5 linked regions of the Homo sapiens genome follow. The protein of the gene in region 4 interacts with the protein of the main gene of each other region in a biochemical or structural test. Each region holds a gene or a part of one and is shown on either strand. Other genes may lie near its edges. The genes, in order: CAMTA1, ACACB, AFTPH, PEX14 and FSD1.

The links.
Region 1: the proteins of PEX14 (region 4) and CAMTA1 interact in a test that uses a peptide from one of them, tested with the Homo sapiens proteins (one large-scale study listed by BioGRID and IntAct).
Region 2: the proteins of PEX14 (region 4) and ACACB interact in a test that uses a peptide from one of them, tested with the Homo sapiens proteins (one large-scale study listed by BioGRID and IntAct).
Region 3: the proteins of PEX14 (region 4) and AFTPH interact in a test that uses a peptide from one of them, tested with the Homo sapiens proteins (one large-scale study listed by BioGRID and IntAct).
Region 5: the proteins of PEX14 (region 4) and FSD1 interact in a test that uses a peptide from one of them, tested with the Homo sapiens proteins (one large-scale study listed by BioGRID and IntAct).

The regions. Positions count from the first base shown.
Region 1 is NC_000001.11:7,732,899-7,737,951, reverse strand, and holds part of CAMTA1 (calmodulin-binding transcription activator 1), read right to left. Parts: intron 1,609-5,053; coding exon 1,412-1,608; intron 1,022-1,411; coding exon 943-1,021; intron 698-942; coding exon 382-697; intron 1-381. UniProt on the Homo sapiens protein: Transcriptional activator.
Region 2 is NC_000012.12:109,118,172-109,124,573, reverse strand, and holds part of ACACB (acetyl-CoA carboxylase 2), read right to left. Parts: intron 5,921-6,402; exon of another isoform or gene 5,790-5,920; intron 429-5,789; exon of another isoform or gene 1-428. UniProt on the Homo sapiens protein: Mitochondrial enzyme that catalyzes the carboxylation of acetyl-CoA to malonyl-CoA and plays a central role in fatty acid metabolism.
Region 3 is NC_000002.12:64,525,826-64,532,227, reverse strand, and holds part of AFTPH (aftiphilin), read right to left. Parts: intron 1-6,402. UniProt on the Homo sapiens protein: Component of clathrin-coated vesicles.
Region 4 is NC_000001.11:10,627,877-10,633,933, reverse strand, and holds the end of PEX14 (peroxisomal membrane protein PEX14), read right to left. Parts: intron 4,404-6,057; coding exon 3,947-4,403; 3' UTR 3,176-3,946; downstream 1-3,175. UniProt on the Homo sapiens protein: Component of the PEX13-PEX14 docking complex, a translocon channel that specifically mediates the import of peroxisomal cargo proteins bound to PEX5 receptor.
Region 5 is NC_000019.10:4,309,452-4,315,853, reverse strand, and holds part of FSD1 (fibronectin type III and SPRY domain-containing protein 1), read right to left. Parts: intron 5,582-6,402; coding exon 5,559-5,581; intron 5,380-5,558; coding exon 5,258-5,379; intron 4,013-5,257; coding exon 3,803-4,012; intron 1-3,802. UniProt on the Homo sapiens protein: May be involved in microtubule organization and stabilization.

The sequences.
Region 1 (5,053 bases), 2.9 Mb from region 4:
GTACAGTAGAAAGGATAGTCAGGACAGGAGATACAACTAGGAATCCTCAAGAATCAACACTTTCTCTATGCCTGAGAGACACAAAGTGCAAAGCCGGAACTCAAGACACGTCCCTAACATTTAAATATCCCCAGTAGCATACACCAGATTCAGATCTTCCTCCTCCAAAATTATGTATTTCTTGCATGAACATAGAATTTTTGCTACTTTCTTCTGTACTGGGGGAGGGGGCAGCACTAGGCATTCTTAAAGAAAAATCAGAAACATTAACAAAAAAACTGAAATGTATGTGACTATCCTATGGACTCTGCTGAGGGCAGCTGCATGAAAGCAAACGGGATCTCTGTCAAGCTCTGAGATGTCATGATTCTGAATTCTTACCTGGGTTGGTGCTTGCAATAACAGTGACTCCCTTGGGTATTTCTGGAGAGCTGATGGCTTCGCTGTGCCACTGGGCCATCCAGCTCTCTGTGCTGGGCTCTTCGCTTGCAGGACAGTGGATTCTGGGGTTCTGTCCCAGCTGAGCCTGCTCATCTCTCTGCAGGTGCTCCAGACACTCTGCTAATTTCACATGACCCCGTGACCTGGCAATTCCCAAAGGCAGCCTTCCTAGAGAGTCGGGAATCGAGATGGCCCGACGGTCCCACTTGTACAGCACGACGGCAGCTTCCAAGTGCCCTAGGGCACACGCCCACATCTAGAAGACAGGGAGACACAGCAAGCGTTCTCAATCAGAGGTCAAGACCAGACCTGACTTTTGCCATTGCTGCCAACTGACAAACTGGTCCTTGCTGGCAATCTCGGTGGGGCCATTGAAGATTCCCATCCCAAAGTATCTCCGAAACATGCCATGTGTCAGCAAGAGACAACGGTGGGAACCAGGCAAATCCTATGCCAGACTGGAAGAACAGCAAGGGGGGGCTACAGGAATCCATTCCTTACCAGAGGAGTACAGGAGAAGTGGTCCACATTCAAGGGGTCAACTTCCAGTTCCAGGTCAATGCTATCCGCGTGCTTTGTACTATAAGGGAGAGCACCAGAAATTACCACACTATTCACCACCGTTAAAAGGAAACACCAGAATATTATAAAACCCCACCAAGATGAAACCCAACTGGGTATATAACATCCCCATGGTGAAGAAACAGAGTCCCAGGGCAGTGTGGACGCTCCATTTGGCTAGGGGTCCAAAGAAAATGACAAGTCCAACATTTAATTCTTATCTCTCTGGGTATTTCTTGGGAAGAAGTTTATAAAACTCCCTTGGAAACTGTCCAAGGACAAAGCCCTTTGCTCGCCGGCTATAAAGTGGACTGAATGGGTAGATTTCTTCCACGGGTGGCAGTGCTCAGGAAGAATGTGAGCGAGGATGTGCGAGGCTGACCCCCAGCCAGCTGCACCACAGCCTTACCGCCATTTGATGAGGGTCTGGATTAGGGTGGCATAGCCCTGGGCAGCGGCCAGGTGGAGTAGGGTCATTCCGCGGAAAGTCTTTGAGTGGATCAAGTGCTTGGACTTCGCCCAGCAGGCTCGGCTCATCATCTTCTCGCATACCACGACCACACGGCTCTCAAAGCAGCTCCCCAAGGCCCCAGTCCCAGAAGCACACTGTCACAAAAAAGCGCACGTTACGACCTCAGGACTAAAGGCCCTCGACCCCATCAGCGCTTCGATGTAGGGGAAACAAATGCTTTACGATTAGAAACTCACAACGGAAAACATAAAACACTGAAAATAAAGAAACATTGGCTGGGCATGCTGGATCATGCCTGAAATCCTAGCACTTTGGGAGGCCGAGGTGGGAGGATTGCTCGGGAGTTTGAGACCAGCCTGGGCAACATGGTGAGACCCTGTCTCTACAAAAAGTACAAAATTTAGGCTGCGCACAGTGGCTCATGCCTGAAATCCCAGCACTTTGGGAGGCTGAGGCGGGCAGATCTCTTGTGGTCAGGAGTTCGAGACCAGCCTGGCCAACCCTAACCCTAACCCCATCTCTACTAAAAATACAAAAATTAGCCAGGCGTGGTGGTGGGTGCCTGTAATCCCAGCTACTCGGGAGGCTGAGGTGGGAAGATCACCTGAGCCTGGAGAGGTTGAGGCTACAGTGAGCTGTGATCGCGCCACTGCATTCCAGCCTGGGTGACAGAGCAAGACCTTGTCTCAAAAAACAACAACAACAACAAAAAACCCAAACCCCCAAGAACCATCCATGAAATTGAGACTAGAATGTGCTTAGCTTCAGCTCAGTAGCACTTCTCTGAAGTCCACAGCTCTACAGACACGAGTCTATCTATTAGGGCTGACACTCTGATTAGGAACTTCATGCCGATTCGTCTTGGGGAAAGTGTACACAGCCTTAAACAAAAAAAAGTGGTTCTAGCCTTCCTGTAGGCAGTAAACTGTTGTGAGACAGTGGAGCAGAGTAGCTTTCCTAATGTTTCCACTGGCGGGTATAGCGGCTCTTTCACTCTCTTTCTTCTTCTTCTTTTTTCTTTTTTTTTTTTTTTGAGACAGAGTCTCGCTCTGTCACCCAGGCTGGAGTGCAGTGGCACGATCTTGGCTCATTCCAACCTCTGCTTCCTAGGTTCAAGCAATTTCTAGCTAATTTTTGTATTTTTAGCGGAGATAGGGTTTCACCATGTTGGCCAGGCTGGTCTCGAACACCCGATCTCAAGTGATCTGCCTGCCTCAGCCTCCCAAGTGCTAGGTTCCTGGCATGAGCCACCGCGCCCAGCCTCTTGCTTCTTCTGAAGGAGAATTAGATCACTTAGATGCGGACTGTTTTTTCCTTAAAGAAATGACTAGAAGTATCCAATAATCCAGTCCTTTATGTAAAGTAAAAAGAATACTGAGAAAAGCATTTAGAGATCCTGAAATTTAAGTGTTATTAATAACAATAAGGGCTATAGGAAAGAGAAGTTTACTAATTTTAACCACATGGGTTACTTCCTATGAACCAGTTGTAATGGAAGAAAAATAAAATGAAAGTTAGTAACTTCAACAGCTTATGTGAGTCTCTGTGATAGCAGTTTTATGTTTAACACTCCCCCAAATAAATGGCACCTCTAGGCTAATTTGTATCTCTGGTGTTACTTAAAAAGTACTTTTTTTTTCTGGCAATAAACTCCATAAACTTTACTTACTACAGAAATACTATGGCTCCTCGCTGATTTTTATTTTTAAATGTGGAAAAAATGCCTCCCAAAATAAAAAAGGCAGATGATGGGATTGTTATCTCAGCCTCATCAAAGCTGTAAAAACACCTACAGGAGCAGAGTTAGGTGATCCCAACATGCCGCAAACTGACCTTGACTCAAAAGGCCAAGGCACAGCCATTCTACACACACAAGACACATTCATGAGCACATGGAAATGGCCAGAGTGAACGAAAAGGGAATTTTTTTTTTTTTGTATTAAACAAAAACAGTCATGTCTCTATCCCGCATGGCAAACACGGACATTTACTGAAGGCAACTTAAACTGATGAAAGGATATTCAGTAGTGGTTAACATGGGATGAGATTCTAGGCCAGTTGCATAGCGTTTGAGCCAGCTGCGTAGTGGCTGAGCTTTAAAATGACATTACATACCATTCCTTTTATGCCACTTTTGTTGGTGAAAGGAAAAGTATTTTAAGGAGATCTCTTATGTGAGCCATGAGGTAAATTAAACAATGATTACTTCTTTTATAAAACTTAGTACTATCGGCCGGGCACGGTGGCTTATGTCTGTAATCCCAGCACTTTGGGAGGCCGAGGCAGGCGGATCACCTGAGGTTGGGAGTTCGAGACCAGTCTGACCAAGGTGGGGAAACCCCGTCTCTACTAAAAATACAAAATTAGCCAGGCGTGGTGGCCCATGCCTGTAATCCCAGCTACTTGGGAGGCTGAGGCTGGAGAATCGCTTGAACCTCGGAGGCGGAGGCTGCAGTGAGCCAAGATTGTGTCACTGCACTGCACCTGGGCGACAGAGCAAGACTTCGTGTCAAAAAGAAAAAAAAGAAGCCTATCTTAGCCTTAATAATATTCTACTGCGTGCCAAGTTGTTTCTTTCCTGCTGATTTCTGAAGACAGGGGAGCAATATGAAAACACGGGGAGGAAGGAGGCTAGCCTTTTGGGTGTGGCATATGATGTTCTTTTAACCTATTATTTAAAATATAACTAAACTTGATATTTATGAGGTTCATAAAACCAAAAATATTCACCTAAAAACTTAACTGTGTAAAGGAAATCATCATTTGTCTTGAAGAGAAAGAGGGGGCATTATTTGAGGTTTTTTTTGCAACGACTGAGTAGTGGAGATAAGAAATACCATCAGTTCCTTTAAATTTATCTCTAGGGTCCCCTGAGAAATAATTTCTCCCTGGGAGACTTCCCAAAAATGAACTTCCTAAATGAAATGTATATAAAGCCTTCAAGACCAATGGGACTCTGAAACAATGTTTGGTAATTTACTCGTACTTGGCAATATCATACATTCTTTATGGAACTTACAGAAAGTTTGTGAAAGAGGCTGTAATGTATAATGTCATTCTACACTGAATCATTACATAAACACTTTCTCTGGGCTCTTTTCATACTGACCTTGAGTTTATAAAAGGCTTATGAATTACTGAATTCAATTATGTTTTATACCTACACTTAAGATAGGGATAAAATACAGAATAGAAAGTAGGAAGATTCTAAATTAATTCTGAACCCTAGCAGGTCTAAGTCACCATCTGGCCTTTTTTTTTCTTCTTCTTCTTTTTGAGACAGGGTCTTATTCTGTTGACCAGGTCAGAGTGCAGTGGAGTGATCATGGCTCACTGCAGCCTCAACCTCCCGGGCTCAAGTGATCCTCCCACTTCAGCCTCCTGAGTAGCTGGGACCACAGGGATGTCCCACCACGCCTGGCTAATTAAAAAAAATTTTTTTTTTCTATAGAGACAGGGTCTCAGTATGTTGCTCAGGCTGGTCGTGAACTCCTGGGCTCAAGCAATCCTCCCGTCTTGGCCTCCTACAGCGCTGGGATTATAGGCGTGAGCCACCATGCCCAGCCAGCCTCTATTTTT
Region 2 (6,402 bases), on a different chromosome or scaffold from region 4:
GTGATAGGGAACTTTACGACGGAGGTCAGACTGATACCCTAAACTCACTAATGAACAAAAATCACTAAAAGTGGGGTAACTGAACTTTATGTTCTTGACGTGATGCAAGAGAAAACAGAAAAACACCTTCAAAGTATTCCTGCTAAGGATCTGCACCTGAATTGATTCAAGCCTCTTGACCTAGTACTTATTTATAGGTATAGAAGAACATGTTAGATGACACTTGGAAGATGCAATCAGCCAAATCCAGAATATGGAAAATTCTACGGGACAAATGACCCAGTTTCAATAAGTAACTGGCATTTAATAAAGGGAGTTGCTGATTATTACAGATGAGGAGACTTAAGAGAAACCCTGTGGGTCCTGATTTGAATAAAACCATTCAAAGACATCTTTGAGCCACCTGGAGGACAGTCAGCATGAACTAGGTACTAGATTAAGGAATTATCATTCATTCTGTTAGATAGATATAATTATGGCAATGGTTTAAAAAAAAAACTTGTGTCTTTTAGAAATGTGTGCTAAAGTATTACGGGCAAAACAGTGTGACATCTAGCTGTGAGAATTGCTTGAAAATAGTCTGGGGGCCAGATGCAGTGGCTCACATCTATAATCCCAGCACTTTGGGAGGCCAAGGCAGGAGGATCGCTTGAGCCCAGGAGTTCAAGACCAGCCCGAGCAACATGGCAAACTCTGTTACCTAAAAAATAAAAATTAAAAAAAAAAAATTAGCCAGGCGTGGTGGTGTGTCCCTGTAGTCCCAGCTACTCTGGAGGCTGAGATGGGAGCCCAGGGTAGTAGAGGCTGCAAGTGAGCCGAGATTGTGCCACTGCACTCCAGCCTGGGCGACAGAGTGAGACCCTGTCTCTTTTCTTTTTTTTGAGACAGGGTCTCACTCTGTCACCCAGGCTGGAGTGTAGTGGCACAATCTTGGCTCAATGCAACCTCTGCCTCCCAGGTTCAAAAGATTCTCCTGCCTCAGCCTCCTGAGTAGTTGGGATTACAGGTGCATGCCACCAGGCCTGGCTAATTTTTGTATTTTTTGTAGAGATGGGCGTTTTTCCATGTTGGCCAGGCTGGTCTTAAACTCCTGGCCTCAAGTGATCTGCCCGCCTCGGCCTCCCAAAGTGCTGGAATTACAGATGTGAGCCACCACGCTCGGCCTAAGACCCTGTCTCTTAAAACAAACAAATAAACAAACAAACAAAAAAAACTCTGGAGCTCTAATTAATGACATGCATGTTGAAGTATTCAAGGATAAAGACACTGATATCTGCAATTTACAGGTGACAAATACAGAAAAATGGTAATGGCAGAATCTAATCAGGGGTATATGGGCACCCACTGTAAAATTCTTTCAACTTGTATGTTTAAAAATTTTTTTTTTTTTTTTGAGATGGAGTCTCGCTCTGTCGCCCAGGCTGGAGTGCAGTGGTGCGATCTCGGCTCACTGCAAGCTCCGCCTCCTGGGTTCATGCCATTCTCCTGCCTCAACCTCCTGAGTAGCTGGGACTACAGGCACCTGCCACCACGCCCGGCTAATTTTTTGTATTTTTAGTAGAGACGGGGTTTCACCATGTTAGCCAGGATGGTCTCGATCTCCTGACCTCGTGATCCGCCCACTTTGGCCCCCAAAGTGCTGGGATTACAGGCATGAGCCACTGCACCCAGCTTAAATTTTTTTATAATAAAATGTTGGGGGAATAATATAGGGAAAATGGGTATAGGAAGATGAAACTAGAAGGGCAGAAAGGCAATGGTTATTGAAGCTGGCTGATGAATGCATTGGGGGACCACTGTGCTATTTACTCTGCTTCTGAAGGTGTTAAAAAAAAACAGGTCAACTTTTTTTCCTATACCAAAAAGTTAAAAAGTTCATAAAATACAATGCAAGTACCCACCAGCTGACTGAAACCTGAATATTAATAGCTAATACTTATGAGTACTAATTTGTGCTAGGCTCTGTATTCAGCATCTTTTTTTTTTTTTTTTTTTTTTTTTGAGACAATGTCTGACTCTGGCGCCTAGGCTGGAGTGCAGTGGCACAATCATAGCTCATTGCAGCCTTGAATTCCTGGGCTCAAGCAATCCCCCTCCTCGGCCTCCCAAAGCACTGGGATTACAGGCATGTGCCACCACGCCCAGCGAAACTTTTTATATTTTATACAGACAGGGACTCAAGCAATCCTCCCGCCTTGGCCTCCCAAAGCACTGGGATTACAGGCATGAACCACCATACCTGGCCTATATGAAGCATTTTATAATCATTGTCTCATTCCACCTTGTGAGACCAGTAGCAGGGGAAGCCTCGTTTTATTGATGAGGAAGTTCTGGGTTCGAGAAGTTGAAGTGACGCAAAGTCACTCACCCGGGTAGTAAGCAGATAAACTGAATTTCACCTTTTCAATGATTGCTCACTGCACCCCTTTCCATGGTCTACATGGCCCTGGCAAACCGGCCTCTGCCACACTGACCCCTCTACGTTCCTCTGCACATGCTGCCTGGAATGTTCTGGAATGTTCTTCCCTTCCCTGCCCCCACTTCTGTCCTTTGCATGGTTATCTCTTGCTCTTTTTCTGATGGTTGGCTTCAGTGTCCCCACCTCAAACCCACCCTGATACTCAGTGGTCTTATTCTGTAGGACACGTGCCATTCATCACGTGCTGACCTGACTCTCTGCATTCACCAATGAGTTTATGCCTCTTCTCCACTGGAATAGAAGCTTCCTAAGGGCAAGGAGTGGCTCTGTCTTGCTCTGGGCTCTCCAGCACAGTGCCTAGCACACAGAAGCGTCAGGGTCAGTGAACACTTGCTGGAGGCCTGCACCCAGCTCAGGTGTGTCTGTGCCACCCCCACCCCTGCTGCCTACCTGGGGAATCCTCCTGCTCCACTGAGTCCTTGGGGCTGGGAGTGTCCAGGTGAGGCCCTGGGCACAGGCATCTGCACGGCTGTTGAACCCCTGCTGGCTGCTCCCTCATACTGCTGTATCAGGGGCCACCAGAGAGATGCCATGGAACACCATGCTCTTGCTCTATGCCCCACAGTTCCCTGATCTCTTCCTCCTGGCACTCATCATAGGTTGTAGTTATGTGGGTCATTATTACACATCTACCAGTGTCCCCCACTAGAAGGTAAGATCTGTGAGAGCAGGCAAGGCTTAAAACCCAGAGGGGCACAGATTTATCATCAATTTCTGACTTCATCTCCCCCGACCCCTTCCCCAGTCTATTTGCAACTCTGAAAATAGGGTTCTTTTGTAACTCCAGTATACACTAGGAGGCATATAGTAGTCCCTCAAGGAACCCATAAAAGCATGTTGAATAAGAATGAAAGCTGGCAGGTGTGGTCTCTCATGCCTGTAATCCCAGCACTTTGGGAGGCCTAGGCGGGCAGATCACTTGAGGTCAGGAGTTCGAGACCAGCCTGGCCAACATGGTGAAACCCTGTTTCTACTAAAAATACAAAAATTAGCCGAGTGTGGTGATATGCACCTGTGGTCCCAGCTACTTGGGAGGCTGAGGCAGGAGAATCGCTTGAACCTGGGAGGTGGAGGTTGCAGTTAGCTGAGATCACGCCACTGCACCCCAGCCTGGGCAACAGAGCAAGACTATGTCTCAAAAAAATAAAAAAGAAAGCTGATGTTTGTTGAGCACCTCCTACACACTGAGTCTTATGCTGTGCACTTTGTGTGTGTTATCTCTTTAAATGTTCACAAAAATGATAAGATGAGGCACAGAGAGAAAGTCTGTTGTTCAGAGTCACATCAGTGAGTGGCAGAGCTGGGCCCCGGGCTGGGCCCTCCAGCTCCAGGTGTGCACGTGTGTGGCACACGTGTGTGGGTGTGTTTTCTTCATCCCTTCCCCTACGCCCACCATTGCCTCACTCCAAGGCTGAGCTAGTGCAACAGCCTGTTAGCAGATCTCACTGAATCAATTCTACTTTCTCCCTGTTCAAATTCATCCAGAACCCTGGGAGACAGTGCTCTATTTACACACACACACATACACACACACATGCATGCATACACACATGCACACACACACCCCTTGCCCCCTGCTCAAGAGCTCGAGCCTGTGAACCTCATCCACTCCATGGTCCTGCCTCCCAGGATCCTGCAAGGAGATGAGGAAGGCATGGAATGAAACGGTTCCATGTTTTGCAAGAGGTGGCTATGAATACCAATCCTGAAAGATGGTCCCCACCCTTGCCAAAAAATAACATTTCTAGGGCCAAATCCCAATGTCACATCTTGGAGAGTCCCACTGCATTTAGCATAGTAAAGGCTCTGAGAAGTCCTGCTGTAAACCACAGGCAGCCTGGTGTTTCCCAAACTGATTGGCCCTGGAGGCCTGTTTCCACCTTGCATGGGCAGCTCTCCATATCAGAAGAGCTCCAAAAGCCTCACTTTGTGGGGAGTATGGAAATAAAAGACCGAAGCCTTCCTTATAACACAGCAGAGAAAGCCTTCTAGGTCAGTTGGGAGGGGCATGTCCAACAACTGATTATTCTATAATAGCTAGTATTGAAGTCTGCAGCTGATTTGCTTCTAAATAGAAAGGAGAGTGTGTTCAAGTTGTCCTCTGATATCACCTTCACTCATTATTTAATTTAAAAATATGGAGCTTAATTAGTTCAACAGGAGTGGTGGAAAATCCTTTAATCCTTTTTTTTTTTCTTCTGAGATGGAGTCTCGCTCTGTCGCCCAGGCTAGAGTGCAGTGGCGCGATCTCAGCTTGCTGCAACGTCTGGTTCCCAGTTTCAAGCGATTCTCCTGCCTCAGCCTCCCAGGTAGCTGGGATTACAGGCGCACCACCATAACTGGCTAATTTTTGTATTTTTAGTAGAGACAGGGTTTTGCCATGTTGGTCAGGCTGGCCTTGAACTCCTGACCTCAAGTGATCTGCCTGCCTCAGCCTCCCAAAGTGCTGGGATTATAGGCGTGAGCCACCCAGCCCTGTCTCAAAATCATTTTTTTTTTTTTTTTGAGACAGAGTCTTGCTCTGTTGCCCAGGCTGGAGTGCGGTGGCACCATCTCGGTTCACGGCAAGCTCCACCTCCTGTGTTCAAGTGATTCTCCTACCTCAGCCTCCCAAGTCGCTGGGTTTACAGGCACTAGCCACCACACCCAGCTAATTTTTGTATTTTTAGTAGAGAAAGGGTTTCACCATGTTGGCCAGGTTGGTCTCAAACTCCTGACCTCAAGTGATCTAGCTCCTCAGCCTCCCAAAGTGCTGGGATTACAGGCGTGAGCCACTGTGTCTGGCCTGAAGAGACCTTTTCTATGTGTAGTTGTTTTCTGGGGCCCCAGCAAGGGTCAGAGTGGCTAAGGTATGAGCCCAGAGAGCAGGACTTCTGGAGTACAGCAGACTTGGGTGGAGGCTTTGCCATTTGTTATCTGATTGGCCTGAGCCCATCATGGAAATTCTCTGAACCTTGGTTTCCTGGCCTGTGGAATGGAATAAATAAAATCTCCTTCCTAGGATTGTCCTCAAAATTATGTGAGATCCCATAATTATTATGGCATACCTGGGGTATGCCAACTACCCAATAATCAATACCTTGGTTTCTCTGCTGTGCCCAGCCTGGATTCTCTGATACAAGGATCCCTGGATTCCTGGAATAAATGAACACGGTCTATCTTCCTAGAAAATCACCTTACTCTACGGTCATAAATTTACTATTATCACTGCAAACAGAGAGATCTATTAGGATAGGATGTGAAATGTGCATACATTTTTCCGATCAAATGCAATATTTCTAACTCTGTTTCCTGGTTTCCCTGGGTACAGGTGAACTCTACTTTGAAGTAACAAGTCACTGAATCACAAATTCAGAGGAAGCATGAGAACAAGGTATTCCAGGCCGGGTGCAGTGGCTCATGCCCGTAATCCCAGCACTTTGGGAGGCCAAGGTGAGCAGATCACTTGAGGTCAGGAGTTCGAGACCAGCCTGGCCAACATGGCAAAACCCCATCTCTACTAAAAATACAAAAATTAGCTGGGCGTGGTAGTGCTTGCCTGCAATCCCAGCTACTCGGGAGACTGAGACTGAGGAATTGCTTGAACCTGGGAGGCAGGGGTTGCAGTGAGCTGAGATTGTGCCATCGCACTCCAGCCTGGGTGACAGGACGAGACTCTGTCTCAAAAAAAAAAAAAAAAAAAGAACAAGGTCAAAGTTTCTACTGGGATAAGACTTCAAGGAAACCTCCATTTCAAAAGATTAAAATGTTTATTTCCCCATGAAGACTGGGTATCTCATGTAATGTAATACTCAAATTTCTGTCTCAGACCTAAAGGTGTTGAAAGTATGAGCGAGTTTACACAACACCTGAGCAGGAGCAAATAAAACTCTTAAGAGCTTCTGAAAGAAAGTTACAGATTAGAGATATTTTCATCTCTAAAT
Region 3 (6,402 bases), on a different chromosome or scaffold from region 4:
TAATTAACATTCCCTTGTGCCACAGGGTCTTTGCACTTACAGTCCCAGTGCCTAAGACATTCCCACACATCCTTCAATTTTTAGGTGAAAGATCAATTCCTCAGGTAAGTTTCCTAACACCCTCCCTCAAGTCCTCCTACACATATTTCTTTCAGAGCATAAGAACCATAGTAAGTTATAGTTTGTGATCAAACACTTGTAACTTGAAAAATTACCGTGCAACCCATGTATACTACGAAAAATATATTGAGAGGTTTAAATGTAATATGTAATTTTAAAAAATCTATGTATTCCTTTCTATAAGAGTTAAGTTAATCTTATATTTTTTCTCTAAATAAAAAGTGTCATTTCTAGAGCTGGGCTGTCCAACTGACAACAATTAAGCCATATATGCAATTAAAAATCTTCTAGTAGCCACATTTAAAAAGAAACAGATGAAATTTTATCTAACCCAAAGTATCCACAATATTATTTTAACATGTGACCAATGTAAAATATTACTGATATATTTCACATTAGTTTTTAAAATCTGCTGTGTATTTTACACTGAAATCACATCTTAATTTGGGCTAGTTTCATTTCAAGTGACACATTTGGCTAGTGGCTACTGTATTAGACAAGATAGTTCTAGAAGATAGTACTGTATTTTTTTATACTTAAATAGCTTGCTAACAGAATAGGTTAACTTAAAAAGAGCATGGCATTAAGCAAGATTAATCTTATATCAAATAAAGGCATATCTCAGGTTTAAATCATTCAAAAATTTTAAATTATGCAAACATTCCACACTGCTGAAAAGCCTAAATTCAAAATAAAAATTCCAGTAATTTAAAAACTGCATATTACTGATCATCTGAGGAAATAAGGGAGATGGGGACCCAACCACTGCTGGTAGGAGTGATTTTATTATAACCTCTTAGAAAGTAACAGGCTTTCCCTCTGACTTAATAACTCTACTTCTAAGATTTGATCCTATGAAAATAATCAACAATAAGGTCAAAGAATTATGTACAAACTTTTTCACCAAGATGCTCTTCTATGATGGTAAAATCTGGAAAACCCACATTAGTGGGAAATAGCAGAGATAACTTGAAAATGGCATTCTACACAGTCATTAAAAAGCATGGTTTTTTTCATTTTGTGGTGTTTTTTTTTTTTTTTTTTTTGAGATGAAGTCTCACTCTGTCACCCAGACTGGAGTGCAGTGGTGTGATCTAGGCTCACTGCAATCTCCACCTCCCGGGTTCAAGCAATTCTCTTGCCTCAGCCTCCCGAGTAGCTGGGATTACAAGTGCCTGACACCACGCCTGGCTAATTTTTGTATTTTTAGTAGAGACGGGGTTTTACCATGTTGGCCAGGCTGGTCTCAAACTCCTGACCTCAAGTGATACTCCCGCCTCGGCCTCCCAAAGTGCTGGGATTACAGGTGTGAGCCACCACACCCAGCCAAAAAGCATGTTTTAAGGAAAATTTAGTAACATGGAGAAATGCTCACAATTTAATAAGTAAAAGAAAGATCAACGCAATATGATTCATATGTATATGTATGACATGCTCACATATCCACAGTAAAAATAAAACAGGAAGAAAACCAAAATATTAACAGTTTTCTTTTTGTAGTATGATGACCAGTGATATTTTTCTTCTATTATCCCTCTTAACATGTATTTATTGAGTGTTACTTTGTGCCAGGCATTAAAACAGAAGGGTTCCTGCCATCATGGGCACACCCATTTTCTTTCTACTTTTTTTCCACATTTTCCCAAATTTTCTATAATAAGCACATTATTTTTTCATAATTTTAATAACTGGAAAAACATAATATGATGTAGATAATGATTTGGGTAAATCAGTTGCCAGGGGACATTTTTGGGTGAACTGGGGAAGAATCTGAATATGGCCTTGAATATTAGTTTAGATGACTAAACTGACTTAAAACAAAAAAAACTACAAAACACTACAACAAGTCTTCATTTTGGTAAAAAGTACACATATATATTAAAATGTGTAGGAAAATATGCATTATTATATAAACTGTAACAGTGAGGGATTTGCTTTTTTTTGTTGTTGTTGAGACGGAGCCTCACTCTGTTGTCCAGGCTGGGGTGCAATGGCATGATCTTGGCTCACTGCAACCTCCACCTCTCAGGTTCAAGTGATTCTCCTGTCTCAGTCTCCTCAGTAGCCAGGATTACAGGCGGCCGCCACCATGCCTGGCTAATTTTTCTATATTTTTAGAAGAGACGGGGTTTCACCATGTTGGCCAGGCTGGTCTCCAACTCCAAACCTCAAGTGATATGCCCGCCTTGGCCTCCCAAGGTGCTGGGATTACATGCGTGAGCCACTGCGCCTGGCTGAGGGATTTTTTTAAAGTAATTTTTCCAGCCTGGGCAACATAACAAGGCCCTGTCTCTACTACTAATAAAAACAATTAGCCAGGCATGGTGGTGTGCGCCCGTGGTCCCAGCTATTTAGGAGGCTGAGGCAGGAAGACTGCCTGAGCCCAGGAGGTCTGTGCTGCAGTGAGCCATGATCACTCCACTGTACTCCAGCCTGGGTGACACAGTGAGACTCTGTCTCAAAAAAAAAAAAAAGTGATTTGTTTTTTTTTGCTTGTCTATTTTCTATGATGCTCCTGTATGCCTCTGCAATAAGACTATTTTAAAAAATTTAAATATGTATACACCCACTATTTACTGAGCATCTATTACATACAAAACTGTGGTAGAACTGAGTAAAAGGAGTCACAACCTTAAAGAAACTTACAGCTAATTAAGGAGAATAATACAAGAGAACAGCAAAAATAATGCAAGATAGAATATAAACATCACTGAAGTAAAATGTGGCTACCAAGATTCTAAGAAAAAGATCACACTTGATTGGGAAGAGAAGGAATGGTGAAAAAAAAAAAACTTCAAAAAGGAGAAAATTTGAAATAGGAAGGATTTAATTGACAGAGGAAATGGTAGTCATTAAAGATAAAGCATGGGGCCCCTATCAAGGAACAGTAAGACACATAATAAAATATGGTTAGAACACAGGATATATGAAGGGTACAGGCAGTAAGCTGGAAACATAGGTTGCAAGGGCCTTGAATTTTCAGAAGGGAGTGCCTCTGTAAGCTTTCTGAGTTTAAAAATGAGGGAATTATTGCAGATTCCAATTCAAGAAACTGTCCTACCACTTCTCATCTCTACTGCTACCATCTTGGTTCATGCCACTACCATCTCTTCTTAACTCTACCAGCACAATTCTCTCCTGACTCTGCTTCTATTCTTACATTCCACTCCTATAGTCTATTTTCTATATAACAGCTAGACAGATCCTTTTACAACATAAATTATCTTACACCTTTACTCAAAAATCCTGCAATGACTTACCATCTCCCACAGTAAAAAGCCTAAGTCATTAGAATTTCTGTAAGGACCCTAAAACACTGCCCCTCTCACCCTCTAACTCTGATCACAATTTGTACTACTCTTCTACTTGTTCACCCTATTCTATCCACCCCAGACTTCTCTGCCACAATTTCTTGACTATTCCAGGCATACTTCTGTCTCTACCACTCTTCTTATTTGCTTCCCCTTCTTCAGGTTTAAGCCTTCTCTGACTCCACTCTATATAAAACAGCAAGCCCCACCAACCTCCCTTACTACTGGCTCAAAGCAAAAAATTCACCACTCCCTATCCCCCAAAACTGATTCCATTTTTCTGATGATACTTAACATCATCTGCCATTATTGCTATTGCTTATTTTATTGCTATTTGCTTATTTGTCCCAAATATGTACACAAATGTGTGAGTACATACATATATACATAAAGAAACTGAAGCTGTAGGAGGGCAGATTTTTTTTCTTGTTTGCTCATTTCAGTATCCCCAGCACCTAGAACAGGGCCGGACAAATAGCAGGTGCTCAATAGATACTTGTTTTATGAATGAAAGGAAGAAGATAACATGCATGGTGTCAGTAGATATTTAATTGAAATGGTTTATGGTATACTGTAAATATTTACATAAATAGAACCTACAGTAAATTAATTCTCATTTACTGTGTAATTTTCCGATGGGAATTATTCACAAATACAGTGCTAGTAAATTAACCTTTAATTAATTAGCAATCTATCTTTGCAAGGTTTATCTTCAAGTTAGCTATTTGGAACAAGGGTGACAGTGACTGACAACCATAGGATGGAGTCTTAAATCATTATTTCCCTCTTCTTCTCAATTATCCCAAATCAATAAGCAGTGATTCCCCACCTCCTTTCTTCCTCCCCACTTAGTTCTGACCTTTTCCCTTTTCTTGGGAATAGGTCTAATCCACAGACCTATGAGCCCCTACCCTAGAAGGGAAAGGCCAGAAATAGACACTAGGAGTGTGACAAAGGGCTGTTAAATGGTTGCCAGCAATAGGGAAGAGTCCAGGCAAGGGAAGTTAATGCAGAGGAATCTGGAGAGGCAAACAATTCTTAATTAAAAACATTTTTTTAACTTAGAAGCTCCTTGTATTTTAAAAGAAAGTCAACACAAAATAATACTAACTCCTTTCCTGTCCTTTTTTTAAATATACAATGCTGAAAGAAGAGTGATACTTTATATATGTTTTAAAGTTAAATACCTAAACTTTTAATTTCTTTTTTTTTTTTTGAGATGATGTTTTGCTCTTGTTGCCCAGGCTGGAGTGCACTGGCATGATCTCAGCTCACTGCAACCTCCGCCTCCCGGGTTCAAGCGATTCCCCTGCCTCAGTCTCCCGAATAGCTGGGATTATAGGCATGTGCCACCACACCCGGCTAATTTTGTATTTTCAGTAGAGACGGGGTTTCTCCATGTTGGTCAGGCTGGTTTTGAACTCCCGACCTCAGGTGATCTGCCCACCCCGGTCTCCCAAAGTGCTGGGATTACAGGTGTGAGCCACCATGCCCGGCCTTTAAACTTTTAATTTCATTGTGAAGAACTTCATGCAAACCTTAGGGAGAAAAAAGCCATAATGAATGAGCCAGTAACCATCACCCAGGTGTGTTAAATCTTAATCTCTTAACAAGTCAACTTCGGATTTTTTTTAAGGATATAAAGATATGTTTGTAAACCCATGGGCCCCTCCTAGATCCTTCATCCCTCTCAAGTTCTCCAAAGGTCACTTTTAGTCTGACTTGGTGTTTATCATTCCCATGCATGTTGTTATACTTTTGCTACATATTGCACAAATCACAGACAATACATAGTATAGTTTTGCATGAGACTATATAAATGGTCTAGCAAACGGATCTGTCACTTAACAGCTGTTTGACCTAAGGCAAGTTACTTAGTATCTGTGTGCCTCAGTTTCCTCTCTGAAAAATGAGGGATACTACTACTTACTGCCTTACAGGTTGTTGTGTGGATTGAGTTAGTACACTGTATATAAAGCATTTAGAAAACTATCTTGCTCATAGGAAGCAATATATATGAGCAACATATATACTGCTCATGTGTTAGCAATTATCATATAAAGCTGCAAAAGAACTTGTGACTATATCTGATATATGCACAAACTGAGAAAATGATTAGCAAAATGAGATATGTAAAATCCATACAATGCCAGATTTTCAAAATAGTGTAAAAACTAAAAATACTTATAAAGTTCCGGCTAGAAAGGTTCACTATTCTACTTAAAAAGGAATTGAAAGTGCTAAGAATAGAGGGAAAAACCTTTATTTTTTAATCTACAAAGTGTAGGTAACATTAAATTAGAATATAAACATTTTATTTAAATAATTTATGATGATTAAAAAATATCTAAATACTTAGCGGCCTCCTTTTATGAGATTTGGGGGAAGGGTTGGGAGAGAAGGGGCAATCCCTTAATGAGAAGCTATTCAAAGACTTTGCCTGCTGAGGAAAGCACTTTAGATTTCACACAAAATAAAACATTATTTGGTACTCAAATGTCACTACATTTCTGAACTAGTTTTTCACTAAATGTAAGCAGAACAAATGAAAATGTAAAATGATGTTTTATGATATGATTCACCCACACTATACAATTTTCATAACGAAAACTGGATTCGGCAAGATGTATCAAGGCTATTAAGGACATATTATCCTTGTTGTGATACGGGATTATTTTTTAACAGTCTCTAGGTCAAAAGATCAGCAAACATTAAAACTTAAATGCCCTACATATTATGTGAATTGTAGTGGATTTTTTTCCAGAGGTTTTTGAAGATTTAAAAATATATGTGTACTTTGAAGATCAACTGATATATCTAATTTAATCCACGGAGGAACAACTAGAGCTAATGAATATCTGCTAGGTGCCATTTACTGGGCTAGATGTTTTACACAAGATCTGTCTTTTAATCCATGTGAAATATCTTTATGAACAAAATTTAGGAGACTACCACAGATACTTTGTTTAAA
Region 4 (6,057 bases):
TATTAAGGTTTATTCATGATTCAGGTAGTCATCCCTCAATGCCAGGCGAGATTTCAGACCCGTTTTGCATTAAAGAGAGTGCCAAGGCTGTGGTCTGAGCTGTGGCCTGCAATGGGCACGTGTTGGAGGAGGACATGGGGACCTCTTGAAAAGGGCCCACTGGGCCCTGCGTGAGTGTGAGGGTGCCACACACATGTGCACGCACATGCATGTCAGCATGTGCCAGCTCGGGCGTGGCTCCCCCTGGCCAGGCGGTGGCCAGTCCCTAGGTGGGAAGCCCCTGTACACAGCAAAGGAGCAGGAGGAGGAAGAGCGGCCAGGCCCTCCAGGTCTACCTGGGTGCTACACCTCAGGAGCGCACCTCACCTGAGGCTGGAGCTCCCACCTGCATGCAGGTCTCACTGGCGCCTCCGTGCCTGCCCTGTCTGGAGGCTCTGACCTCTTCTTTTGGTGCCTTGGCAGAAACCAGTTTAAACAAAAGACAAATTAAGTCAACTCCTGGGGACAGAGATGTCTGGCCATTGAAGAATGGCCCCTGCTTGCCCTCCCCTTCCCTCCTGGGGTCTGGGGCAGGGACAGGGTGGTCACCTGGAGAGGGAGGGGTCTGGGGCAAGGCCGGAGACCCAGCGCCTCCATGCTCCTGGCTGGGCCGCCAGGAGGGCAGAAGCGAAACCTTCTAGAAAACTCTTCCACCTGTACCTGGGTGTGAGGGCCCCGAAAGATGAACACAGCTTGCTCAGATGCGTTTATTAAAAACAAAGAAAGAGGGAAAGAGACTCTGTGGGCACACAGGGAGCCGATGGGCAGGTGGCAGGTTCTCGCATCTCTGTCCCCTTCTATGTGGATTGGCTTTGCTACACATCCCACCTGTGGGTACAAACTCAGCAGCCCCTTCCCCTGACCCAGGCGCTCCCTGTCCCAGCCAGGGTCCTGGGATGGGACTGGCTCTGGGAGCCTTGGCTTTTGAAGGACTTGGCAGCCCCAGGCGGGCGGAGACCCTACCATCCCCCGAAGGCAACTCCCCCGCCTCCTGGCCTGTCCTGCGAGTCGCAAACACCAAGGGAGGTCCCCTGTCCTTCCCAAAGTAGATGCCCCTGCCCAAGGCAGAACCAGCGAGTTACCGGAGGAGCCGGGACAGACCCCGGGGACCGAGGGAGCTGGTCCGGGGTGAGGTCAGGGCAGCTGTCCCCCGGCCTCCAAGCATGGGGCTAGTTCTTTCCTAAAAGACACTTTATAAAAATACATTGTAATTGAGTTTAATAATCTTCTCCCTTCCAGAAAGGGCCTGACAGGCGCTGCCTGCTGCTTACTTCTGCCCCATTCCGAATATTTTTACCTTATTTGGATGAAATGCATTATTTTTCTAATGAAAGGCTTTTTTTTTTCAAAGGGCTGTTTTCCCTGGTCCAGCAGCTGGCTTTATTAGGCAGCACTCCTGCCGTTTTGGGGAGGGGTTTTTCTCTCCCTGAAATCACGCCAGACTCTGTCCTCAAAAGCCGAATTCGGTGCTCAGGACCCACAGGGGCAAAAGGCCTCCGGGCCCAGGTTTCTGTCCGTTTCTCCTCCACGCTTGAGCCTCAGGGATGTGCCAGCCCACTGACCCCCAGGATGGAGAGTGCTTGCCCTGTGAGGTCTCCATTGCCCCCACCCCAGGGATAGTGAAGCCCCAGGGAATCCCTTTCTTGGTGGCCCCAGCTCTCCAGGGAGAAATGGAGCCGGGAAGCTGGCACTTCACTTCCACAGCACCAACCCCACAGCCCTGGCTTCCCTTCCTTCCCAGGGTATCTGCCCTCTGGTCTCCCTTTCTAGTCCCACTGGAGGAGGGACCTCTGAGAAGTTACAGACAATGGCCACCAGGCAGCAAATGACAGGGGGCGGGGACTCCTCAGGAACCGATCCGTCCAGATGCAGGCCTGTGACCCAGCAGGTCTGAGGGTGGGACACAGGCAGTCACTGTCCCCAGAGCCAGGCCGAGGCCTGGCCCACCTGTCTGCCCACCGCAGCTCCCAGACACTGGGACTCCTGGGGTCCTGGTAGGCAGGACCCCCTCGTCCAGGTGAGGGTGGCAGCCCCTGGGAATTGAGACACCTGCTTCTTCAGGGACAGCAAGGAGGCCAGGGAAAAAGGAGAACAAGCCATAGTGTGACACTGAACTGGGCTCCGCTCGTCCCTGGGGAACACGTAGCTGGAAACAGGAAATGCAGGAGTGTCCTTCCAGGTGACAAGCATGAAAGACACAACCCGCAGGCCAGAAACCAGATTGGGGCTGGACCCTCCAGCAGGTGGGTTCAGCCTGCTCCCGGTGACCCTCCAGTGGGTGGGTGCAGCCCAGTACTGGGGACCCTCCAGTGGGTAGGGGCAGACCTGCTCCCAGGGACCCTCCAGTGGGTGGGGGTGGACCTGCTCCAGGGGTCCCTCCAGCAGGTGGAGGCAGCCGGGTCCCAGGGACTCTTGAGTGAGCGGGGGCGGCCCGGGCCTGGAAACCCGTCACTTTAGCAGGACCTGTGTTCCCAGCATTAAGAAGGGTTTGCTGCAGGGGCCAAAAGCGAAACATCTGAGACAAAACAGCCCCAACACCAAGTCTCTGAGCCCAACCACATGGCCTCCTCCCTCCCCAGCAGAGGGAGGGGCAGGGCGGAGCAGGTACATGGAGGTCGCACCCGCAGGGACTGCCCAGGGCTTCCTATTTCCGAAGCCCTTGTGTCCACACAGGCACATGGACATCACGGCGCCTGCGGCCCACGAGCCTGGTCCTGACACTTGGGGGCTGCAGGGAATAGGAGCGCCCCTCAAGGAGCCCATGGCTCTGCTCTTCTGGTTTTAGCCAAATGCTCTGTGAAGGGGAAAGGGAGACTGGGAGGAAAAGAGCCAGGGGAGACAGGGAGCCAGAGAGGACGCCACACTCCCCTCCCCGGGAAGCATTCGTCCATTTAAGGAAGAGCTCCTCACTCCACATGAGGTCTATATACAGTCACACGAGGTCCCTGATCCTCCTGCGGTCAGCAAAGTGTCGCCCTCCGGCAGCCACTGGACCTGAACAAGGCCTCTGCTTCTGGCTCAGCAGCGGCGGAAGCTGCCCATGGGCCCTCACCCACACTTCACCAGCTGGAGGCTGCGCTGAGACGAACCCCCGGGCCCAGGGTGCCATGAGCAGACAGGGAGCCACAGGCAGAAATTAAATAGTGGCAACTGGTATTTATTACAATTATATACAGTCCTATCTTCCGTTCTGAGGTCTATACATGATCACACAAATGAACATGTGTTTCCTGGGGGGAAGGACAGAGCTGGCTGTTGGTCAGGAAGGCCCTGCTGCCTGGCTCCTCCTCCGGAGTGAGCCCCCATCTCGCCATGGGATTAGCTGAACCATTACACGGCAAGCGGGGGCATCGGAAGCGCAGCGTGGTTTCATTTGTCTGGGAGGACGACGGGGCATGAGTGGGGTTGGGGCTGGGGACAGGCACCTGACGGGTCCAGGGCCGGGCCCAGGGAGGGAGGGGGATGGCAGACACCAGAGGGACCGCAGCTCCTCCTCCACTGAGGAGTCGGGAGGCAGTAGGGACGCTAGCTCTGGCCATGCGTGGTGTCACGGTAGTCAAGACACTCAGCAAACACACCCTGGGCAAGGCGTCTGTCCGGGAGAGGGGGCTGGGGAGGGGCTTGGGCCCCGAGGCTTCGCTGCCTTCAGCCTGACTTGAGATCAAAGCCAAAGGCAGCTGGGCCTGGGGCTGGGGCTGGGGCTGGGGCTGGCGGCCAGGCGAGAGGAGGCCAGGTGGACAGAAGTGTGACTCCCCACACTGCCACCAGGCCGCAGTGCAGCTGAGGACAGCTCTGCCCCCTACCTGGGCTCCAAGCTGCCCTCCCAGGGCCAGAGAGGGAGGCAGGGTATGGCCACGCACGGGCACACTAGATGCCATCCTCAGGGCTGGAGGCAGCAGGCGCAGCCCTAGTCCCGCTCACTCTCGTTGCTGGCGCCCTCGGGCCGCCGCAGCTTCTCCACCTGCTCGTTGATCTGCCCATCCCCGCCCCGGCGGTCCTCCCTCTGCACCCCCAGGCAGTCCTCCTCGTCCACATGGCTCACATCATCATCCTCCTCATCCTCCTCGTCCTCCTTGTCCTCCCTCTTCTCCTCCTCGCCTTGCACCTCCATCCGCACCTGGCCCTTGACGTCCACCACCCCCTCGCCTTCCTCCTGGGGGCCCAGCAAGTGGTAGGTGACCGTGGAGCCCTCGGGGCTGTGGCCCTCCTTCCCAGGCGAGGACGACGTGGACTCGTTGCTGACAGGTGAGATGTCGCTGCTGCTGTGGTGGTTCACGGCCGCAGGGCTGGAGGGTGACGGTGACTTGACTGGGATCTGCCAGGAGGGGATCTTCGGGGCTGATGGGGATGGAGGGAACTGCCTCCTAGAGGGAGAAGAAGGGGAGGAGGTTGGTGGCGGCATTCAGGACGCCCCCCTTCGAAGGGCCACGCCTTCCCTGACCCGCAAGGGCTCGGCGATGGTGAGCTGCTCCCCCAGGGACACTGGGCAAGGGACAGGATGGAGCCCTTCCACCCCTCCTTTCAGGAGCAAAGATCCTACAGCTGAGATAGATGCCAAGCGGGTCCTGTGCCCCCACAGACAGCCCAGGGTCCCCCCGGGCCCCCACCCTGGGCAAGGCCCATCTGCCTGGGCAGCTGCTGGAAGCCAAGTGGGGCCTGCCTGCCATGCGGGAGCCTGCTTCCTTCTGATCCTCAGCACCATCCCTGCCTCCAACCCAGTGGCCAGGAGAGAGACAGGTTGGTGAGGAGTCCAAAAGGGCTATGACTGGGGACTCCAGACACCTGAGCCACAGTCCTCATTTGTCTATGGCCTGAGCAAAAGGTGGAGGCAGGGAGCCCTGGCCACTGGCAGGGGGTCAGACACATCAGAACCAAAAGGGCGGTGGTTATGCCCTTTGCTAGAAAACTTCTGAGCTCAACACTTTCAACGCAGAAGAGGCAGCTCTCCCTTCTGCTCCGTACTCCGTTCCTGGGCCAGCAGCCAGCCCAAACCAAAGCCAATTCCAGGAGGGACCTGGGAGGTCAGGTCCACTTGGCAACGGCTCAGAGACAGAGCTCTCCAACAGGCAGGCCCATCTCTGCCTGAGCCAAGAGGACAAAGCCCTGCCCGCAGGGCTGTCCCCCAGCAGGGGCCTTAGACACAACTCTCCCACCACAGACCCCACTTGAGTGGGGCACACACCACGGCCTGCTTTATTCACCAGCATCCTAAACGCTAACAAGAAATTCCATGTGCAGTTTTCTTGGCCCCCACGGTCACCCGATGGCCTGGCCTCCATCCCCAGCCTCCAAGGCACTGGTCTCGGTTAGGGAAAATGGAGGCTGTCTCCTAATGACAATGCTCTGGCCTCTGCCAGCGCCACATCTCTTTCCAGGACATGTTCTTTTCCTCAGGGAAAACCGGGAAGTTGGGTGGCTTGGAAAATGGGGTCTTCTGGCTGGAGCCGCAAGACCCCTCTGCACCCCATCCTGGACCCTAGTGAAAAGCCCACCTGCACCCTCCCACTCACCCAGCTCCCAACAAATCCAGCCCAGCAGGGAAACAAGGACACCCCATGCAAGGCCCACTAGGGCATCAGCCCAGGAGGATGGCCCACAGTTGCGGCTCCCAGGACAGAGTGGCTCCTGGACACTGGACTTTCAGTTTTAAAAAACCAGAACAGTCCAGGCACAGTGGCTCACACCTGTAATCCCAGCACTTTGGGAGGCCATGGGCAGATGACCTGAGGTCGGGAATTCAAGACCAGCCTGGCCAACATAGCAAAATCCCACCTCTACTAAAAATACAAAAATTAGCCGGGAGTGGTGGCGGGCGCCTGTAATCCCAGCTACTCGGGAGGCTGAGGCAGGAGAATGGCGTGAACCCGGGAGGCAGAGGTTGCAGTGAGCCGAGATCGTGCCACTGCACTGCAGCCTGGGCAACAGAGCGAGACTCCATCTCAAAAAAAAATAAAAATAAAAATAAATAAAACCAGGACAGTCCCAGGCAAAGCAGGACAAGTTGGTCACCCTACCTCT
Region 5 (6,402 bases), on a different chromosome or scaffold from region 4:
AGTTCGAGACCAGCCTGGCCAAGAGACCAGCCTCGCCAATAAGGTGAAACCCCGTCTCTACTAAAAACACAAAAATTAGCCAGGTGTGGTGGCGGGGGCCTGTAATCCCAGCTACTGGGGAGGCTGGGGCAGGAGAATTGCTTGAACCCAGGAGGCAGAAGTTGCAGTGAGCCAAAGATCGCATCATTGCACTCCAGCCTGGGTGACAGAGCGAGACTGCAACTCAAAAAAAAAAAAAAAAAAAAAGGCCAGGCACGGTGGCTCACGCCTGTAATCCCAGCACTTTGGGAGGCCGACGGAGGCGGATCACAAGGTCAGGAGATCAAGACCATCCTGGCTAACACGGTGAAAACCCGTCTCTACTAAAAATACAAAAAATTAGCCAGGCGTGGTGGCAGGCGCCTGTAGTCCCAGCTACTTGGGAGGCTGAGGCAGGAGAATGGCGTGAACCCGGGAGGCGGAGCTTGCAGTGAGCCGAGATAGCACCACTGCACTCCAGCCTGGGCAACAGAGTGAGACTCTGTCTCAAAAAAAAAAAAAAAAAAAAAAAAATTAACCAGGCGTTGGGGCGCATGCCTATAGTGCCTGTAGTCCAAGCTACTTGGGAGGTTGAGGCAGGAGAATCGCTTGAACCTGGGAGGCAGAGGTTGCAGAGAGCCGAGATCAAGCCACTGTACTCCAGCTTGGGCGACAGAGCGAGATTCTGTCTCAAAAAAAAGAAAAAAGAAAAAAGGGAAAGAAAGAAGAAAATAACCCAAACCCTCCCATCTTTCCAAGCAATCAACAAAACAGTAGGTGGATTGCAAACGACCACATAGGCAGCTGCTTTCATCGGTATCCTTACTCCTGCACAGCTTTCCATGAATCCAACTTTCTGCCCTGAGGAATTCACTCACTAGGAAGTCTGTCAAAGGCAGGAAGCCATGGTTATAAAGCGTAGCACCTGGAAGCCTCGTAGTGACAGAAGAGATCTATACTTTGACCGTGGTGTTGGTGGTGACATGAATTTACACATGGGAGAAAACTGTGTGGAACACCCGAATGAGCGCGTGTAAAACTGGTAAAATGTGGCGGGGCGTGGTGGCTCACGCCTGTCATCCCAGCACTGGGAGGCCGAGGCAGGCGGATCACCTGAGGTCAGGAGTTAGAGACCAGCCTGGTCAACATGGAGAAACCCCATCTCTACTAAAAATACAAAAATTAGCCAGGCATGGTGGTGGGCGCCTGTAATCCCAGTTACTAGGGAGGCTGAGACAGGAGAATTGCTTGAACCCAGGAGGCGGAGGTTGCGGTGAGCCGAGATCAGGCCACTGCACTCCAGCCTGGGCGACAAAGCGAGACTCCATCTCAAAAAAAAAAAAAAAAGGTAGAATGTGAGTCCACTGCACCCGTGTCCATTTCCCGGGTTTTATGCTGACTACATGGGTCCTCACTGTACTTTTTGTTTTAGTTGTTTTGGCAACTTCCTGTGGATCTATAATTATTTCAAAATACAAAGTTACAAGAAAACAAAACCAAAAGGCGGGGGCACTTGGAGGAGGGATTTGAGGAATCCTATTTACAACAAATAAAAGGGGTGTGTTTATTTTGATTCTCAAGCAAAGGATAAGCCAATGGCTGTTTGCAGCTCCTGAGGCTGATGACTTTTCCCCCTGCAGTTAGCGTGCTCATGATTAACCATGTATGCTAATTACAGATAACTAGCTGGCTGATTACAGCCCAAAAGCAGCTAGTGAATGGTGATAGTTAAACCCGTCAGCCAGCCTCTCCCCGCCCCTCCGGGATTCCCCTGGATCAGGATGGCTTTTTTTTTCTTTTTTTTTTTTGAGACGGAGTCTCCCTCTGTTGCCCAAGCTGGAGTGCAGTGGCGCGATCTCTGCTCACTGCAGCCTCCGCCTCCCAGGCTGAAGTGATTCTCACTCCTCAGCCTCCCAAGTAGCTGGGACTACAGGCATCCGCCACCATGCCCCACTAATTTTTTTGCATTTTTAGTAGAGACAGGGTTTTACCATGCTGGCCAGGCTGGTCTTGAACTCCTGACCTCAAGTGATCCACCCACCTCAGCCTCCCAAAGTGCTGGGATTACAGCGTGAGCCACCACGCCTGGCCAGGATGGCTTTTTGTTTTTTTTTTTTTTGAGACGGAGTCTCGCTCTGTAACCAGGCTGGAGCTCAGTGGCGCAATCTCAGCTCACTGCAACTTCTGCTTCCTGGGTTCAAGCAATTCTCCTGCCTCAGCCTCCCGAGTAGCTGGGATTACAGGCGCCCGCCACCACACCCAGCTAATTTTTGTATTTTTAGTAGAGACAGGGTTTCACCATGTTGGTCAGGCTGGTCTCAATCTCGTGACTTCAAGATCCGCCCGCCTAAGCCTCCCAAAGTGCTGGGAGTACAGGTGTGAGCCACCACGCCCGGCCCAGGAGGCTTTCCCCCTTCAGACCCTACCTCCACCAGCTGGGTGGATTCCTTGGGTTTTGTTTTTTTTTTTCTTTATTTTTCTCTCTTTGTTTAGTAGAGACAGGGTCTCGCTCTGTTGCTCAGGCTGGAGTGCGGTGGTGCAGTCATGGCTCACTGCAGCCTCCAATTCTTGGGCTCAAACAATCCTCCCACCTTAGCCTCCCTTGGTAGCGGGGACCACCATGCTCAGGTAACTTTAAATTTTTTTTTTTTTTATAGATGGGCTCTTGCTTTGTTACCCAAGCTGGTCTCCAGCTCCTGGCCTCAAGCAATCCTCTTGCCTCAGCCTCCCAAAGTGCTGTATCACAGGCTTGAGCCACCATGCCTGGCCAGCTTTCAATTTCTTGTAACTGCCAAGGAGGACCCCAAATACTTGGAGGGTGAATCCAGAACGCCAGCTCTAGGAGGGAAAAGATTATTGTCTGCTTTGTTCCCTGCTCCGAGGACAGTACACAGCTATTTGGGAGGCTGAGGCAGGACTGCTTGAGGCCAGGGGTTGGAGACCAGCCTAGGGAAATGGCAGGATCCCATGTCTGGAAAAATATATTCATTATTATTATTTATTTATTTATTTATTTATTTATTTATTTTTTGAGACGGAGTCTTGCTCTGTCGCCCAGGCTGGAGTGCAGTGGCGCAATCTAGGCTCACTGCAAGCTCCGCCTCCCGAGTTCACGCCATTCTCCTGCCTCAGCCTCCTGAGCAGCTGGGACTACAGGTGCACACCGCCACGCCCGGCTAATTTTTTGTATTTTTTTAGTAGATACAGTATTTCACCGTGTTAGCCAGGATGGTCTCGATCTCCTGACCTTGTGATCGGCCCGCCTCGGCCTCCCAAAGTGCTGGGATTACAGGCGTGAGCTACCGCGCCCGGCCTATATTCATTATTATTATTTTTTGTTTTTTTGAGATGAGTTTCGCTTTTGTTGCCCAGGCTGGAGTGCAATAGCGCGATCTCGGCTCAGTGCCATCTCCACCTTCCGGGTTCAAGCAATTCTCCCGCCTTAGCCTCCTGAGTAGCTGGGATTACAGGTGCCCGATACCATGCCCGGCTAATTTTTTTGTATTTTTAGTAGAGATAGGGTTTCACCATGTTGGCCACGCTGGTCTTGAACTCCTGACCTCAGGCGATCCACCCGCTTCAGCCTCCCAAAGTGCTGGGATTACAGGCATGAGCCACCGCGCCTGGCCACTGTCTCATATTTCTGATCCACCTCCCCAGGCTGCTTCCAGACCCCATGAGCTTTGGGGATCGTCCCCAAGGCCCCCAGTGACTGATGGCGAGACGGGAGGCTGGAAGAGGTGGCTGTTCACAGCTGGGCGGAGCTGGCACACACTGCCCTTACCTGTCAGGGTGTACTCTGTCTGCCGGATGCCCTCGATGACCATCCAGGGCTGGTCCTCCTTGAGGCGGGGCGGGCCCTCGAAGTTGGTCCGCCGGTACTCCAGCACGTAGTGGTCAATCTTGCTGTCCTCATCCGGCATGCGCCACACCAGGGTCACACAGTTATCTGCCACCAGGGACTCAGCCAGGTCGATCACGGGTGCGCTGGGCACTGACCAAGACGGAAAGGAGAGGGGGTCGGGATTCTGTGCCTGGTTCAGGGGGCAGGGGGCTTGCTGCAGGGCTGCCCAACCACATGTTGGACAATTTTGGGGGCATGGCCACAAAGGGGTTCCATGTTTGGCAGGGTGGAGACTTTTTTTTTTTTAGAGACAGAGTCTTGCTCTTGTCACCCAGGCTGGAGTGCAGTGGCACGATCTTGGCTCACTGCAACCTCCGACTCCCTGGTTCAAGCGATTCTCCTGCCTCAGCCTCCTGAGTAGCTGGGATTACAGTCGTGAGCCACCATGGCCCGGCTAATTTTTTATATTTTTAGTAGAGACAGGGTTTCTCCATGTTGGCCAGGCTGGTCTTGAACTCCTGACCTCAAGTGATCCACCCGCCTCGGCCTCCCAAAGTGCTGGGATTCCAGGCGTGAGTCACCGCGCCCGGCCATGGAGACGCTAAGGTTCCATCAGTGGGTTGGGGGAGGGCTGAGCTTTCTTGGGATTCCATCATTTACAGGCAGAATTATTCCAAAATCTCTGCCAATGAGGGATGCGGCTTTCTTTGGGGCTGCATCATAGACAGGCTGGGTTCTCAGTCCATTTCTCCTCGGGGACGTGGCCTTCTCAGGGCTCCACCCCTGGAAACAGGGTTTTCCCAGGAGCTACCATGTGGTGGGCAGGCCCTTCTCGTGGCTCTATCCAGGGAGGAGGTCTCGGGAGGACTCCACTCCCCCAACGACATGGTATTCTCAGGGCTCCACCCCTGTGGACAGAGTTTTCCCAGGACCTCACCCCCTGGTGGGTGGGGCTTTCTGATGGCTCCACCCATGGGCGGGACTTGATGAATACCCCACCCCCACAGGACGTGCTATTCTCAGGGCTCCACCCCTGGGGACAGGATTTTCCCACCTGGTGAGTTTGACCTTCTCATGGCTCCACCCCAGGGCGGGGCCTCATGAGGACTCAACCAACCCCACAGGACATGGTATTCTCACAGTTCCACCCCTGGGTACAGAGTTTTCCCAGGATGTCACTACACAGTGGGTGGGGTCTTCCCATGGCTCCACCCAGGGGCGGGGCTCCATGAGAACTCCACCCCCCACAGGGCGTGGAATTCTCAGAGCTCCACCTCCCCCAGGCGGAATTCAGACACCGGGTCGTCCACCATACTCCAGGTCCTGTTTCAGGGCCTCCTAGCCTCCCAGGTCATTCCCCGGAAGTCCTGGCCCTCTAGTGCGTGCCCCTCTCACCAGGCAGGAACTTGAGTGCCTGTAGCATCTGCCGCTCTTGCGCGAAGTCCACCATGAGGTGACTCATGTTGTCACTGACCTTCGCTTTCAATGATAGCCGGAAGGCAGGGGCCATGGTCACTCTGCAGGAAGGAGGTGGCAGGCGTTGCGTGGGGGACCAGGCCTGGTCATCCGTGGCGCGAGGGGGCCCCTCCCCAGGGCTCCCGTCCAGGGCTCTGAGATGAGACACCCTCACCAGGTGGCCCCTGTCTTCACACCAGGGGCAGGGTAGTGGGGTGGGGGCCAGACCCCAGTGTCTTACCCATCTTTGATTTGCTTGGCAGCCTAGAGAGAGGAACAGAACAACATTCAAAGATTTCTTTTTTTGTTTTTGAGACGGAGTCTTGCTCTGTTGCCCAGGCTGGATTGCAGTGGAGAGATCTCGGCTCACTGCAACCTCCACCTCCTGGGTTCAAGCAATTCTGCCTCAGCCTCCTGAGTAGCTGGGATTACAAGCACCCACCACCACACCCGGCCAATTTTTTGTATTTTTAGAGAGATGGGGTTTTGCCATGTTGGCCACACTGGTCTCAAACTCCTGACCTCAGGTGATCCGCCTGCCTCAGCCTCCCAGAGTGCTGGGATTACAGGCATGAGCCACCGTGCCTGGCCCAAAGATTTGTTTCATTTTTTGTGTTTTTTTTTTTTTGAGATGGAGTCTTGCTCTGTCGTTCAGGCTGGAGTGCAGTGGCACGATCTCGGCTCACTGCAAGCTCCGCCTCCCGGGTTCACGCCATTCTCCTGCCTCAGCCTCCCGAGTAGCTGGGACTACAGGCGCCCGCCACCACACCCAGCTAATTTTTTGTATTTTTAGCAGAGATAGGGTTTCACTGTATTAGCCAGGCTTGTCTTGATCTCCTGACCTCATGATCGGCCCGCCTCAGCCTCCCAAAGTGCTGGGATTACAGGCGTGAGCCACTGCGCCCGGCCCAAAGATTTGTTTCTACCAAATCATAAAGCCACTCTACAGACATGAAGACTGAGGCCTCTCGAGGAAGGTATTTGCCAAAGTGTCCCTGCACTTCTGGACTGTGCCCTGAAGACAGAGGATGGCCAAGACAGGCTCCCATCCCCACCCCAACCTCCTGCCCACACCCAGCCCATAC